Linked DNA regions of Homo sapiens: region 1 is linked to region 2. The links come from fine-mapping of genetic effects on gene expression. A gene starts in region 2. The other region holds a variant in brackets. All regions are shown on one strand. Distances are from middle to middle. Region 1 overlaps MYBPC1 (myosin binding protein C1). Region 2 holds the start of MYBPC1 (myosin binding protein C1).

The links. PIP is the estimated chance that this variant, and not a neighbour inherited with it, causes the effect.
Region 1: its variant is fine-mapped to the expression of MYBPC1 in prefrontal cortex (CommonMind, PIP 0.95).

What each region holds. Positions count from the first base shown.
Region 1 is chr12:101,645,043-101,647,973 of GRCh38, reverse strand. It overlaps MYBPC1 (myosin binding protein C1), which reads right to left. Exons shown (of 32, transcript NM_002465.4): 13 at 1,087-1,211. It overlaps LOC105369937 (a long non-coding RNA gene), which reads left to right. Exons shown (of 2, transcript NR_188371.1): 2 at 946-1,254. Among named protein-coding and RNA genes, the nearest start is that of CHPT1, 51 kb to the left of the region's middle. The variant T/A (reference allele first, on the strand shown) is at 1,702.
Region 2 is chr12:101,593,372-101,596,302 of GRCh38, reverse strand. MYBPC1 (myosin binding protein C1) reads right to left here and starts at 1,332. Exons shown (of 32, transcript NM_002465.4): 1 at 1,208-1,332. The coding sequence starts at 1,232.

The sequences.
Region 1 (2,931 bases), 52 kb before region 2:
CAGATGAAAAACCAACAGTGAGAAAGCAACATCTATGGTTGACATGGTGATAACAGTAAGTGAGGTTTTTGTTTTTGTTCTTGTTTTGAGACAGAGTCTCACTCTGCTGTCCAGGCTGAGGTGTAGTGGCGTGATCTTGGCTTAATGTAACCTCCACCCCCTAGGTTCAAGCAATTCTCCTGCCTCAGCCTCCTGAGTAGCTGGGATTACAGGTGCATGCCACTACACCCAACTAATTTTTGCATTTGCAGTAGAGACGAGATTTTACCACATTGGCCAGGCTGGTCTTGAACTCCTGATCTCAAGTGATCACGTGCCTTGGCCTCCCAAAGTGCTGGTATTATAGACATGAGCCACTGTGGCTGTCTGTGAGTTTTGTTTTGTTTTGTTTTGTTTTCTATGTCTGTTCTTGGCAAAATAAATAGCAGGCAACCCTGGGTAAATTCTCCCAATTTTTTCACAGTTCTCCAAGTCAAATCAATTATTGTTCTCAAGAACAAACAAAACATATATCAAATATTATTCTTTTAGCAAAGAAGATACTAAATGCTAGACATTTCTGATGAAGGAGAATATATAAAACTCAAATCTTTGATCCTAGTTCCAGATGGATGACAGAGATCTCAGGGTTGTCTGTCATCAGAAGCCCTCATAAAGAAAATAAGGAAGACATGGCTGTATTCACACCCTCCAGCTCTTTTCACAATGTCTTAGTAAATGATAATTTTCAGTGTGCTTGGTACCAACCACTTATTAATGAAGCTGGTTTCAAGAGAAACCTATTTGTGATCAATTGAGTGTGTGAAACAAGGATTATCCAGTAAAATCTGTTGGGTTTCAAAGCTATAACTAGAATAATTATTTTTGCAAGATAGTGCTTGGCTTGAGTCAAAACATGAGGCATTTGTACTCAACAGGTTCTCTTTCTCCCCTCTGCTGTTCTAGTCTTCAACAAACCAGAAGACTCATTAGGATCCATAATAGCTGCCAGTGTAGAGGAGCCTCAGTTACTTTCACTTTGATCATTATCCCTGGGAGAAGAAGCCAACAGCTCCTGGTGACCACAATAAGAGATTTCATTTTTACCTCTTACGAAGAGCTCAGTGGAACATTTCTCATCACCGGCTGTCACATAATACTCTGAATCATCTGTCATCTGACAGTTATTGATAAACAGGATTCTCTGGCATCCTTTGTGTTCAAAGATGTATCTGTTTTGAATAGGATGAAAATAAACAGAGTCTGTGAATGTGATTTTATTCTTTTCTTTATTGCCAGCAAATTTGGCTTATAATTTGGTAGTGTTTGAAAGTCAAGGATCTGTTGTTTTTTTTTGAGACAGGGTCTTGCTCTGTTGCACAGGCAGGAGTGCAGTGGTGCAAACATAGCTAATTGGAGCCTCGACCTCCTGGGCTCAAGTGATCCTCCTGCCTCAGCCTCCCGTGTGGCCGGGACCACAGGTGTGGGGCATCAGGCCCAGCTAATTTATTTTTTGTAAGACTGAGTCTCACCATCTTGCCCAGGTTTGTCTCAGACTCCTCGGTTCAAGCGTTCCTGCCTCAGCCTCCCAAAGTGTTGGGATTACAGGCGTGAGCCATCGTGCCCAGCAGGGATATAATTTTGATCTGCTCTTTAGGTATCATATCTTACACAGTTTAACGTCAAACCAAAAAAAAAAACCAATTTTTATCTTTATAATAC[T/A]TAATGTATAAGCATATTTATATATACTATTTAATTTCCATTATAATTTTCTTTTACATAAGGTTTTTATTTCAAATAAAAATCAGTACTCACATATTTGCTATTTAATTTTTTTAACCCACTGTTGGAAGATAGAGTTGGCTGAGGGTGTCAGATTTTTAACTCTGTACATTCTTTAACTAACCAATTCATGTACTTTATAGGTGGGTAGAGACTTGATCTTATCCATTGATGTATGAATAAGATCTATTCATTACCTATCCCAGTGGTATAGTAGATTTCCTTGGGTGAATAAATGATTATACAATTTAAGAAATAATGTGATATAACCACAAACACACGCAGCAGTTCTATAGAATGTGATGTTCTCTTAAATGAGCTCAAGAACTGGTGCTATCATACAGTTACATGTACTAAGAAAGAATGTGAGTATTTAGAAACGAAAAACTAGAAGCCAAGAAGATTGTAAAATATAATTATCTGTGATCTGTATTATGGAGGAGCACATGATGGGATTAAAATAGACTAAAAACACTGTTTTGGGAATTTCTCAGATTGAAGCCTTCAAGAACAAGATATTTAAAAATATTTTCTACATAAAGATAACCAATTAAAATTATGTTTTTGGTAAATTCAGGCCATCTTCAAGAGATTTTTACACCAGATATTAATGTTATCATCACAAAGTCACTCTAGTGGCATGACCACATTAAGAAATTGGAAACCACCTAATTGTACTCCACAAGTAACAGCTTTCCAGGATTAACATCTTTTATAAATGTACACATGGCTCCTGTTAACCTAAAAAAATATATTGGAGTTGAAAATCTCTCAGGCTGAGGAGGATCTCTGTAAAGTAGTTTTATAATAGACTGGAGATACCATCAGACGTCAGGGATTAGTCTGTCTTTAGTCCGTCTCCATCTGTGAGAAGGCCAATAAATAATAAAACACAGGCTTTGACCCACATTTTGTTTTATCTCAACATTAAAGAGTTCCTTTTATATGCAATATTGCAAGTGCTCAAAACAGTACCTGAATTGAAAATAGAAGGTATTCACCCATTATGAAATATAGTCGTTATTTTGGAAAAGCAAAAGTCATCTAATTATAAGATGGGATTCCCAGGTGGCATATCAAATATGGATTGCAAGTTATTTTTCAATTTTATTTTTTAAAATTGGGAGAAATTTGGCAATACTCTGAAATAATCACATATAACCTATAGCG
Region 2 (2,931 bases):
TGGGTGAAAGACTTCATCCATCAATGCCCTCTGCCACTAAGTAAGGCCAACCTGTAAACTGATCACCACAGCCTGTCAACACTGGTTACTTAATTATATAAAGAAAATATGTTTAAAAGACTTTTGATAATTTGGTTAGTATTTCAACATCTTTTTCAAGGTTCCTTAAAATAATAGCTAAAGCATTTTTAAGAATTAAAAACTGAAAACTATGACTATTTTTATGTTTCCTGCTAATCTTTCTTTTTCTTTTATTTGCAGAAGGGAAAAATAAAGATTCAGTAAGCATTAATGAAGATGAATATAAATGAAATAATATTTTTAAAAGATATTTTAATTAAAAATTAAATTCAATGCATGCATAGTATTAATTTGTGCTTATTATTATTTATTTTCATAACTACTAATTCCAATTTACTTCTGTTACCAATTGGTAGCTTTAATACACTAATTTTTTTATAGAAAGGAGAAACTTTGTTAGGGAAAACATTTCTTCTAAGGAAGAATATTTTTATACTTTCAGCTTAACTATTCTTAAAGCCTACTACATATTATGAAATTCTCTACAATAAAACTCATGAAAGAACAATCTATTCATGATATTCAGGGACATCCTTTTTTATCAGGTGTTTGGTTTTCTTTCCATGCAAGAATTTAATAACGAACCTCCAAAGGCACTGATAAGAACAAAAAAAACCCTTCGTCTGTATATTTTAAATATGTTTCCATTAAAAAAAGTAGCAAATATGGAAATAATGTCACAAATTCTTTTTTGAAATCTTGATCCAATGTATTAACCATTTGAGAAAATATTTTAAGTCTCCTACTCTCTGCAAATTGCAAATACATGGTAAAAAATTTGTGATTAAATCTAAGAAAATATGCTTGAAAACGTAATCTGTTTACCATCAGCAATTAACATCCTTAAATTACACTTTAAGGATTCTTTACAATTGAATGATAGAATTATCATTTGATAATTTTAGTCAATATCCCTTTAGAAACTATCGTTATCAGAAATTTTTCAATTCAATATACTCTCGCTGTATTTTTCCTCTGGTCTGTTTAATCTAAAAGATCGTTTCCTTAAATCATAGTGATTTTATTTTCTCATCTAGTTAAGATATTTGTTATTTGTTTGAAGATAAATACCAAAATAAACACTTTATTCAGGAGTACAACAAAAAGATTTCTAGATAAGTCTTACCCTCTTTCTTAGTGGGTTCTGGCATGGCCACAATAAGATGTTATTCTTTAAAGAGTCTCCTTCCCTCCACGACTAGTTGACAGAAACCCCACAGGCAGGCGAGAGATGGTGCAGGTCGGTGTGACAAGCAGTTGGGGAGAAACCCAGTGCTTTTATACTGCCTCTGAACATCAATCATGATGGCACCTCCCTTTCTTCAGCACAAGGATGCAGGAACTTGACAGCTATGGGGACCTTTCTCACATCTGTTGTCTGCACTCTGCTCTCTCGCCTACTGGAAGGAATCTCCTGCCCATCTCATGTGGCTGATGAGAACACCTCTAACTTTCTAAATTCAGCTGCAGCCTCGTGCTCCGTCTTGCTCTTCTCTCTCTGACAGATGCATGTGCTGACTCAGGAGTGCAAAAAGTTTGCTGGATGATTAAAAAAACAAATTAAAAATCATAATATGCCAATCCAACCTATACCTTAATTTTCACTAAGATTAGGCAGAAAAGTCTTTGTATTCAGATGATCACTTTTATGCTCCAATTAGCTTTTCATTTTCATCAGTCCTTAATTATTGCATTTATATTTTTTCTTATTCCTCATTGATATGTCAATATTAATTTTTCAAGCCAAATCTCTAGGTTAAATAACTTGTCTCATGTTCTTCTCTAAGAATAGCAAAGATTTCTATTAGGGGATACTCTGCGTTTGCATTTTTTTCCAAAAACATCATTTTTCAAAATTATAGGACATATAAAAGAATGAGGCAATGACACATGCTACAACGTGGATGAAGCTTGAGAACATTACACTAAGTGAAAGAAGTCAGTCAGACATACAAACGTAGACTATAAAATAATAGATCACTGCTGGGCTCATGCCTGCAATCCCAGCACTTTGGGAGGCTGAGGGGGGTGGATCTCCTGAGGTCAGGAGTTCGAGACCAGCCTGAACAACATAAAGAAACCCCGTCTCTACTAAAAATACAAAATTAGCTGGGCATGGTGGTGCATGCCTGTAATCCCAGCTACTCGGGAGGCTGAGACAGGAGAATCACTTGAACCCAGGAGGCGGAGGTTGTGGTGAGCCGAGATTGTACCATTGCACTCCAGCCTATGCAACAAGAGCGAAACTCCATCTCAAATTAATAATAATAATAATAAAAAATAATAGAACACACATTGTACAATTCCACTTATATGAAATATCTAGGACAGGCAAATCCATATGGTGAGAAAGTATATCAGTGTTTGCCAGTGGCCTAAGGGAGGTGGAATTGGGAGTGACTGCCAGTGCATATGGGGTTTCTTTTGGTCATGATGAAAATGTTCTGGCATTAGATAGTGGTGATGGTTGTACAACTTTGTGAATATATTAAAAACCACTGGATTATACACTTAAAAATATATATGGAGGCTGGGTGCAGTGCTGGGGCCTATAATCCCAGCATTTTGGGAGGCCAAGGTGGGAAGATCACTTGAAGCCAGGAGTTGGAGACCAGCCTGGGTAACAAACCAAGACCCTGTCTCTACAAAAAATAAAAATAAAATAAAAAGATATATATGGGGCCTGGGCAAAGAAAGTCAAATAGACTAGTAGCTATTGTTTTGATTCAAGTGATTCAATTGGAGGGTACACAAATCTAACTTAAGATGTTGAAAGACTGTAGTAGATGTGGTCACTTTCTCCCAAAACGCTCATGGAACTGATAGAGAAATAGGAACTACCAAGTAGTC